Regions from separate parts of the Homo sapiens genome. Here region 1 is linked to region 2. The links come from fine-mapping of genetic effects on gene expression. A gene starts in region 2. The other region holds a variant in brackets. All regions are shown on one strand. Distances are between the middles of the regions.

Region 1 (5,375 bases), 42 kb before region 2:
CTGCCTCCACTGAGTCTGTCTTCAGTCCCCTCTGGATCTGAAGAGGCCAAAGCACCAGCCACAATCCAGAGCCCAGAAAGATCCAGCTAAGATTTCCTTCCTTCTTCTTTCTCCTTAAGCCATTCTTTTTCACTGCAAAGTGGACATCCAAGCACCAAATACAAAAATCCTCCTAGGAAGTGGGTTCAGCCCTCCCAAGGAAAATGGATTGCTTGTTCTGGTAGGATCTCCAACTCTGTGAAGTCTTCCTTATCCAAATTTAGTGAGATAAGATTGGAATGTCAGAGCTGAAATAATTTAGACCAATATTCTGGTTTTCTAAAAGAAAACGGAACCATGCCATTACCTCACTTCCCCGTTTATTTCTTATTTATTTATTTATTGTGACAGGAATCTCGCTCTGTGGCTCAAGTTGGAGTGCCCTGGCACAATCTTGGCTCACTGTCGCCTCTGCCTCCTGGGTTCAAGTGATTCTTGTGCCTCAGCCTCCCGAGTAGCTGAGATTACAGGCATGAGCCCCCATGCCCAGCTAATTTTTGTATTTTTAGTAGAGATAGGGTTTTACCATGCTGGCCAGGCTGGTCTCGAACTCCTGACCTCAAGTGATCTGCCCACCTTGGCCTCCCAAAGTGCTGGGATGACATGTGTGAGCCACCATACCCGGCCTCACTTCCCTGTTTAAAACCCTCCATCTCTCAAAATAAAATTCAAAGTGCTTAGCCTGGTCAACAACAGGGTTTGTCAACCTCAGCACTATTGCCACTTTGGGCTGGAGCATTCTGTGTTGTGGGAGCTGTCCTGTGCGCTACAGGAAGTTTAGCAGCATCTCTGGCCTCTACACACTGGATGCCAGCGGCATCACCCCTCTCCCCAGTGGTAAAGTCTCAGAATGTCTCCAGACATCGTCAAATGTCCACTGAGGGCAAAAATCACCCAGTTGAGAACTAATGGTCTCTAAAATAATTTATCTACGGGATCGAAATGATTTGATCCAAATGATTTGATTCCTGCCTACCTCTGAGACTTCACTCACCAACCGCCTCTGCCTTCTTTCTATTCTTTAAAAATACAAGATCATTGGCCAGGCACGGTGGCTCACACCTGTAATCCCAGCATTTTGGGAGGCTGAGGCGGGCGGATCACGAGGTCAGGAGATCGAGACCATCCTGGCTAACACAGTGAAACCGAGTCTCTACTAAAAATACAAAAATATTAGCCGGGCTTGGTGGCGGGCGCCTGTAGTCCCAGCTACTTGGGAGGCTGAGGCAGGGGAATGCCGTGAACCCGGGAGGTGGAGCGGAGCTTGCAGTGAGCTGAGATCCCGCCACTGCACTCCAGCCTCGGCGACAGAGCGAGACTCTGTCTCAAAAAAAAAAAAAATACAAGATCGTACCTGCCCCAAGGCTTGAACTTGCTATTCCCTGGGAATCTCAACTCAACAGTCACCTCCTCATCTAAGCTTCCCATTAACACTCAGTTGAAAACACCCCTCTGCCTCCATCATTTCCCATCACACCACCTTGTCATTTCCTTCACGGTACTTGGTCCTTACCTTTTTCTCCATAAAGGCAAAGAAAGTGCCCATGTGTCCACTACTATATTCACAGCACCAGAAACAAATCCAAGATCAAGCAGTGCAGCCCCCAACACAGAGGCTGAGCTGCTGCCACACCACGGGCCGAGAGGGGTTGTCAGCACGATGTTCCACCCCCTGTCCTATCCAACCCCCACAGAATCGAAGCCAAGACAGGAGAAGGAACTGGGTGACAGGCCCACTTCTACCTCGTCCCTTGTGGAAGCGATGTCACAAATAAACAGGCCTCATTTCCTTTCTTGTAAGAGCCCGATGCGCTTAATTTGGTCGAACCACGTGGGGTGGGCTAGGGAGAACCAAAATAGACAATCTGTAAATTACTCAGATGAATCCAGCAGCCGGCTTGGGCAAATGTGGCTCAGCTCTCTCCTCTCTACCCAGACAAAAATTCTCTCTCCCGGCAGCCTTTCAACACAGTTAATTTCTAATCAATAAAAAGGAAATCAAAGAAAATCATCTGGGACAAAAGACATTTTCTGGAGATAGCAAGAGCCCAGCTCTCCTCCTGACAGGTTTGCTTTGAACTCCTTCTCTATGGTCCTTTCGCTCTCTCTCACCTAGCAAAGGGTTTCAAATGTGCGCACACAAATTTTAGTGAAGCCCAAACACAGCTGCTCTGCGCCCCCTTATGCCTTTGCTCTCACCGGTTGGATAAAGTCTATTGTCTCTTAATCTGCTGCACAAACAACATTAAAATAGAAATGGATTTTTTAAAAAGCAAACTCCAACCGCAATGCCAGTGCTTTACACATTTCATCAAATGCTTTCACTTCCTTTTCTTTCTTCTTCTTTCTTCTCTTCACTTTTTTTCCCAGTCTTTGTCAATACCTCAACCCTGTATTTGCATAGCTGCA[T/C]TGACAATACAGTCACATTCTGAAATACCCTTTAAGAAAAAAAAAGGGTATTTAAAAAAAAAAAATACCCTTTAAAAAAAAATACCCTTTTAAAAAAAAATACCCTTAGATCAGAGGGGAGAGGATAAAGAGAAGTGGGTTAAAGGGTACAAACATACAGTTAGTGAGAAGGAAAAAATTCAATGTTTGGGGCTGGGCACGGTGACTCACGCTTGTAATCCAAGCACTTCGGGAGGCCAAGGTGGCAGGATCACTTGAAGCCGGGAGTTCAGGACTCCTGCCTCAAGCAAGACTCCGTCTCAATTAAAAAATAATAATAATAAATGTTTGATAGTAGAGTAGTGTTACTATATTTAACAAAAATGTATTGTACCAGAATGATAGAAGCCCTAAATACTATGACTTTATCACTATATATTACATATGTAACAAAATTTCATGTGTACCTCATAAATTTGTACTAATAAAAATAAAATAATAAAATATAATAAAACTAAAAGAATTACACACACATTTTCCATGTGACTATCTAGACATTATAAGTGTCATTATAAATGTTCACATACAACATTCCATTAGGCTGAAATACTGTAACTTATATTAACCATTTTCCTATTGCTAGATACTTAGGGTTTTTTGTTGTTGTTGTTGTTGTTTTTGTTTTGTTTTGTTTTGTTTTGAGACAGAGTCTTGCTCTGTCTCCCAGGCTGGAGTGCAGTGGCACGATCTCAGCTCACTGCAAGTTCCGCCTCCCGGGTTCACGCCATTCTCCTACCTCAGCCTCCCGAGTAGCTGGGACTACAGGCGCCCACCACCACGCCCGGCTAATTTTTTTTTTTTTGTATTTTTTAGTAAAGACAGGGTTTCACCATGTTAGCCAGGATGGTCTCGATCTCCTGACCTTGTGATCCGCCCACCTCGGTCTCCCAAAGTGCTGGGATTACAGGCGTGAGCCACCGCGCCCAGCCGAAATGTTGACTTTCTATGTGAGTGCAATGCCCTTCCTCCATAAGCCCCCAGTGAGGCTGACAAGCTGCATTTCACACTGGATTATATTGGTCTGTTATTGTCAGGCTTTTCATTAGTCTCATCTGATGGGTATCTTGTGGGTTTAATCTGGGTTTCCCTGACTGCTAAAGAGGTGAGCACCTTGTTGTGTTATCAGCTACTTATGCTTTCTCATCTATGAAAACCCTGCTCATTTCTTTTTGATCATTGTGTATTTGTCTTTCTCTTATTAATTTCTAGAAGGGCCTTTAAGTATTATGGATACTATTATTCAGCAATTACATGTTTTTATGGGTTGAATTATTTCCCTCCCCAAAATTCATATTTAATTTCCAACCCCCAGGATCTCTGAATGTGACCTTATTTAGAAATAATGTCCTGGCAGGGTGCAGTGGCTCGCGCCTGTAATCCCATCACTTTAAGAGGCTGAGGCAGGCAGATCACTTGAGGTCAGAAGTTCGAGACCAGCCTGACCAACATGGTGAAACTCCATCTCTACTAAAAATACAAAAAATTAGGCAGGTGTGGTGGTGGGTGTCTGTAATCCCAGCTCCCTTGAACCCGAAAGGCAGAGATTGCAGTGAGCCAAGATCGTACCACTGCACTCCAGCCTGGGTGACAGCGCGAGACTCTGTCTCAAAAAAAAAAAAAAAAAAAAAAAAAAGAAGGTCCTTGTAGAAGTGATTAAATAAGATAAGGTTATACTGGAGTAGGGTAGGCCTTAATCCAATGACTGATGTCCTGATGAAAAGAGGACATTTAGACATGCACACAGGGAGAATACCACGTGAAGATGAAGGCAGAGATCTATAAGCCAATAGACACCAAATATTGCCAGCCAACCACCAGACACTGTGACAGAGGCCTGGTACAGATAATAGCTTTGCCAACACCTTCCTGACATGATTTGGCTCTTTGTCCCCACCCAAATCTCATGTGGAATTTTAATCCCCACATGTCAGGGGAGGGACCTGGTGGGAGGTGATTGGATTGTGGGGTGGATTTCCCCATGCTGTTCTCATAACAGTGAGTGAGTTCTCATGAGATCTGACAGTTTAAAAATGTGTGGCACTTCCCCCCTCACTCTCCTGCTGCCATGTAAGCCGTGCTTTGCTTCCCCTTCACCTTCCACCATGATTGTAAGTTTCCTGGGCCTCCACAGCCATGCAGAACGGTGAGTCAACGGAACCTCTTTTCTTAGTAGTGCCCAGTCTCAGGTGGTTCTTTATAGCAGTGTGAAGGACTAATACACCTCCAATAATTGCAGAGAGTAAATTTATGTTCTTCAAGCCACCAGTTTGCGGCATTTTCTTACAACAGCCCTAGAAAACTAATATATGTGTATAGCAAACGTATCCTCCCAGTCTGTGGCTTGCCTTTTAATCCTTTTTACTATGTTTCCTGATAAGCAGAAGTTCATCATTTTAATGTGGTAGGATGCATCCCTCTTTGCCTTCATTGGTTCATACTTTATTTTCTGACTTTTTAAAGAGGTGCTTTGCTATACTAAGCTCATAAAGATCTTTATTTCCTTATAAAACTTAAAGTTTGGCCATTCATCAGTTCCTGACCATCAGGATTTGATTTTGGTCTGTGTTATGAGGTAAGGCTCCATTTTCTTTCTTTCTTTCTTTTTTTTCCTGTTTTGTTACAGACGGGGTCTCACTGTGTCACCCAAGCTGGAGTGCAGTGGTGTGATCACAGCTCGCAGCCTTGAACTCCTGGCCTCGAGTGATCCTGTTGCCCTGGCCTCCCCAAGGATTACAGGTATGAGCCACTGTGCCTGGCCCCATTTTCATTTTTGAGGGAGTGGCCACCTTGTTCCCTATCTTTCTGCTCCACGAAGCTGTGAGCTCATTGAGGGTAGTGACCTTACATAACTTTCCCCCAATGTTGGAGGTGAGGCCTGGTGGGAGGTG
Region 2 (5,375 bases):
GAGCCTCGGTTACCTCTTCTTTAGTGGAAAGGCTACTCTATACCTCAAAGGCGTGCTGTTGAGGTGGGACAGGACACTGACTATGCAAATACTTGCGTGCGGTCCAGCTGAAAAATAAAATGCACCCTTTCTGTGATGAGAATTAGGTGATTGTCAAGACCTAGTGGAACCCAGTAGGCACTGGGTATTGTCCCGGCAGGTACAGCAGGGCACAAAACAGCAAAATATTATACCCTCATAGGGCTTGCATGAAAAAGTGCTTTAGAATGTTAGGATAAAGTGATACTTTTTCATAATAATCTATGACCATTTTCTGAATACAGGGAAGCATTTCCTAGACATGTGGTGGTCAAAAGAGGCCATTTATGAAACCAAAGTGAACAGAGACAAGGTCACCTCATGGCCCTGCTGAAAAACAGCCTCCCCAACTTTCTCAAAGCCCAGGTGCAAGATGAGTGTCAAGGAGCAGAGAGAAAGCAAAGAAGATGAAAGAGGGTGCCCTGACATTCCCAGGCATGCTGAGTCTTTCTGGCATTGGGTCTCCTGGGCTCACGTGTTTGACACCGATGGAAGAGAACCAATTCACACCAGAAAGAAAGAGGAAGAAAGACAACCCATGCATTCTAAACAGAGGTTGGCAAACTAAGGCTCGCAGATCAAAACCAGCCCCGCAGCCTGTTTTGCTACAGCCCTTGAGCTAAGAATAATTTGTGAGTTTTTAAAAGGTTGAAAAAAAAAAAAGATGAATGCCTCTTGACTCGTGCAAAGTATACAAAATTCAAATTTTGGTGCCTGCAAATAAAGTTTTATTGGAACACAGCCACGCCCACTCATTTACTACTGTCCATAGCAGTTTTGGTGCTATAGTCAGAGTGGAATAGTTGTGACAGAGACCATGTGAGCCTCCAAGAGAAAAAAAATAGTATCTGGCACTTTACAGGACAACAAAGTTTAACACCTTGTTCTAGAAGGAAAACCAACATCACTGGGTCATCGCCATATGAGATGCTTAACATATCTACCACAGTCCCCTCTTGAGATCCCACCTTGACCCCTAAGCAGCTATGTGGCCTTGGGCAAGTCACTTAATTTCTCTGTGCTGAAGGCGGCCATTAAGAACTCCAGGAGCCGGTAATCATGTTCATTTCTCACTAAATTGCGCACCCAGAGGGGCAGGAACTGTGCTGTTTTCATCACTGTATCCCCAGTGCCAGCACTTAGTAGGCGGTCGCCCAAGTGTTTGTTGGGCGACTACTCAATAGCCCCTGGACAACATTCAGCACACAGTGGGTGGACAGTAATGTGACCTTCATTGAACTTGAAGAGAAACTGGCGATTCCACGAAAGGGAAGCCAATTCAGGGAATCTAAGGCAGGAGATGAATGGAAGAGGCTCCGCCAGGTGACACAGCACAGAGTTCCCGGCAGGCTGAAGCGTCTGAGGACACGATGAGGGGATATGTGACCCAGAGGGGAATGGGAGGACCAGCAGCACCCCCAGCTGTGGCTGAGGGGACAAGATGTGAGCCAAGATGCACCCTGGACGTGGGAGTCTGTAAGCTTCTCTGCCCAGCTCAGAGGCGCCAGCGCCAGAAGCAAGCAGCTCAACGGGTCTCACTGCGGGTCTGCCTGCTTGACCTTGGCGCTGACCTGCGGTCACTTCCCTTCTTGCAGAGGAGAAAGGTCTTTTCACCAAGAAGCCCGGCCCACCCCTCCGCCCCCTCCCCCCAAAAAAGGCTGCTTAGAAATTATTTCAGAATTATTTCAGCCCAAGGATTCTTGGGGGACGTTTCTTCAAGGTGAAGAGGGTCCACATCTCCCAGACCCCAATGCAGCGGAGTAAAGTAACAGGCTCCCTTCTCTTCACCAGCGCGCCTCTGGCCTCTGGGTGTCCCCCACCCCTCAGCACCCAGTGCCCAGGAGAGACGACGTCCTTGTCCCTCCTGGTCGGAACAGCTGCCTCAGGCTCGCTCCGCCGGCCAATTAGCCGGAGCCGTCACCACGGCAACGGCAGCTGGCGGGCCGGGTGGCTGGCGCGCCCCGGGCCGCCCTCCCCACGGCCCCTCCCCTGGGGTGGGGTGCCAAGGAGAGGGAGGGGGCAGGGGAGAAGAAAAGTCCGCCCCACCCCCCATTCCCTCCCCAAGAGGCAAGGGCGCGCGTTGCAGAGTACACATAGGACCCTCCATCCCGGGGTTTGGGGGTCCCCAGTCTCTCCTCCCGGGGCGCACCCCTGTTGCTGCACAGGTTGCCCGCGCACGGGCACCCTTTTTCTCGAAGCAAGTTTGTGGGAGCCTAGCCGTGGGCCCTCCCTTCCGCGCGCTCCCAGCCGGAGGGGGCGCGGCACCCCCTACCCGCACCCCGGACCTTGCCCCCAGCCTCAGCCCTACCTGGATGTACGCCATTTTCGCCCGCGCGCACTCACTCCGGCCCGGGCATGGCGCCGCCACGGCCACTTTGCCCTCGCCAACAGCGGAGGGGGAAGAAAGCAAAGGGGGAAAGGAAGAAAAAGGCAGCCGGTGGCCCCAGACGTGACTGGCGTGGCTGATGAGCGGCGCCCGCCCCTCCGCCGGCCGCCCCGTCCTTGCCTTTCCCTGCGTTCCGGCTCTCGGAATCGGGGCCGCCTCCCCGGTTCGGAGATATCGGGCGCCCAGGGCCCCCGCCTCGGCCTCCCTCGCTGTCCCGTGCTCCCCACCGAGGCGCTCCCCAGGCTGGAATAAGGCCGGGGCGCCTGGGCAAGCAGCCCGGGGCAGCTGCGGGGACTGCAGCGACCCCAGCGCAGGCGGGGCCGGAGACGCCGGGGCCGGAGCGCGCAGGAGGCGGGGGAGGGGATGGGAATGGGGAAGGGGGTGGGAGGGGGCGGTACACAGGTCAGCCCATCCTGCTGGCACGGGGGCTGGCACCTACCGAAAGCAGCGCCCCCGGGGCAGCCGTGGAGCCGAGGGGACACAGTGCAGCCTGCCATGAAGTCTGCAGCAGGGAGGGTCCTTCCCATCCAGCCCTCTCCCCAAACTGGGTTGGAAAAACTTTATTCCCGCCCCACCCGACGCGCCTAGCACGGTTGCGGTGAGGCTTGCAGAGGCTGCGTGGATGGGAGCCTCAAGTTAAGGTGGGCGTAGGGCGTCCCAAACGGAGGTGCTGCGTCCAGGGCTGCAGGGGGCGCGCGGAGAGAGCGGAGCGCCCCTTTACCCTAAACCTGCCGGAGTTGCGCCCTGGACGCAACAGGTCTAGCGCGGGGCGGCCCGGCAGCGCCACCCAGCGTCGTGCCCGGCCTCGTGCGCTCCTCTGCCCACGGGCAGGCGGCCGCCAGCGAGCGTGCGCCCCGGGGCGTGTCCACCGCCGCCCTCCTGCCTGTCCTCGTGGCTGGGGCGCCCTGGACCCAGAGGCCTCCATCAAACCTCCCAGCCCAAGGCCTCTGGCTCTCCACTCAGAGATTCGAGGTGGAACATTGCCCTCCGCTGGATTTCTTATTTTATTTTATTTTATTTTATTTTATTTTATTTTATTTTATTTTATTTTATTTTATTTTATTTTTGACACAGGGTGTCACTCTGTCACCCAGGCTGGAGTGCACTGGGGTAATCTTGGCTCACTGAAACCTCCGCCTCCCAGGTTCAAGGGATTCTCGTGTCTCAGCCTCCCGAGTAGCTGGGACTACAGGCACATGCCACCACGCCCACTAATTTTTGTATTTTTGGTAGAGAAAGGGTTTCACCATGTGGGCCAGGCTGGTCTCGAACTCCTGGCCTCAAGTGATCTGCCTGCCTCGGCCTCCCAAAGTGCTGGGATTAGGGGCGTGAGCCACTGCGCCGGGCCGGTTTTCTTTTTAATATGCCCAGTCATCTCCTGTTGCCGGACACCAGCTTATCAGCATTTTAATTTTAACCTCCCAGTGCCTCTTTTTCCTCAGTAAAAACAGGAGAAAATCTCCACCCTGCCTATCCTCCAGGGCTGATTTGTGGGAATAAATGAGAAAATGAATATGGGAGTAACAAAAGATGGATATTCAGATGCATATATTTTTTGTCTAAAAATCTAGCAGACCTATACATTTTTTAGTATGATATATTTAGTTTGTAGCATATAGCACGTAACGCATATTGAGTGCTTATGATTCTGCAGGCATACACGCCTCAACACTTCACAAGCGTTATTTCATTTCAACCTGCAGTACCTTGATCACTCCTATTAGGTAGCACCTGTCCAGCCAGAGTAGGCACTCAGTAATTGTTTTTGTTGCCTTATTCACTCTGCTTCCTGAGGGAGGTGCTATGATTATCTCCAATTTATGAGGGACTGCAGCCCAGACAGGTAAAGCCTCTATGAAGGCCTGACAGCTGGTAGCCCAGGGCACTGACATTTGAACCCACAAGTCCAGCAGTGAACCCAAAGTGGCCACTCCTAACCACTTTGTGGTATTTATCCACAATCTTTCTCCAGCACTGATGGCAAGGCATGCCAGGTGGGGAGTGAGCCTCACAGAGGAGGATGCCTATTGGAACGGGTGCTCCTTGGGGGCACTTGAGGGAGTTCGAGGAATTTGCTAGGTGTTCCCATAAGTAAAAATAGTTAACCCTTTTTCACCTGAGGTCAGGAGTTCGAGATCAGCCTGGCCAACATGGCGAAACTCCGTCTCTACTAAAAATACAAAAAATAGCCGGGCATGGTGGCAGGTGCCTGTAATCCCAACTACTCAGGAGGCTGAGGCTAGGAGAATCACTTGAACCTGGGAGGCGGAGGTTGCAGTGAGCTGAGATCGTGCCACTGCACTCCAGCCTGGGTGACAGAATGAGATACCATCTCAAAAAAAAAAAGTTAACCCTTTTTGAGGTCTGTGTACCAGGCACTGTTTTCAGCCCTTTACACAAATTTTGATCTTTTAATTCTCTGATTACCATGAGGTAGGCACAAGTACTATCCCACTCTTTAGGTGAGAAAAAAAGAGGCATTAAGAGGTGAAGTTGGCCAGGCATGGTGGCTCATGCCTGTAATCCCAGCACTTTGGGAGGCCAAAGTGGGTGGATCACTTGAGGCCAGGAGTTCAAGACCAGCCTACAAAAAGTTTCTTTACAAAATACAAAAATTAGCCCGGCATTGGTGGCTCACACCTGTAGTCCCAGCTACTTGGGAGACTGAGGCTGGAGAATCGCTTGAGCCCAGGAGATTGAGGCTATAGTGAGCTGAGATCACACCACTGCACTCTAGCCTACATGACAGAGTAAGACCCCATCTCGAAAAAAAAAAAAAGAGATGAAGTCATTTGCCCAAGGCGTGTCATGCCAGGCCACTGTTAACTCCTTTAGGAATAGTACCATGTCCAGGAGGCCAAAAAAGAGACCTAGAGACAGTGAACGAGACACAGGGTTTATTGAGGGAACT

The links. PIP is the estimated chance that this variant, and not a neighbour inherited with it, causes the effect.
Region 1: its variant is fine-mapped to the expression of SYT17 in whole blood (TOPMed, PIP 0.95).

The regions. Positions count from the first base shown.
Region 1 is chr16:19,207,630-19,213,004 of GRCh38, reverse strand. All of the region lies in intron 5 of SYT17 (synaptotagmin 17), which reads right to left. Among named protein-coding and RNA genes, the nearest start is that of SYT17, 42 kb to the right of the region's middle. The variant T/C (reference allele first, on the strand shown) is at 2,449.
Region 2 is chr16:19,165,673-19,171,047 of GRCh38, reverse strand. SYT17 (synaptotagmin 17) reads right to left here and starts at 2,808. Exons shown (of 8, transcript NM_016524.4): 1 at 2,387-2,808. The coding sequence starts at 2,401. RefSeq lists an enhancer at 2,224-2,971 and a silencer at 3,163-3,412.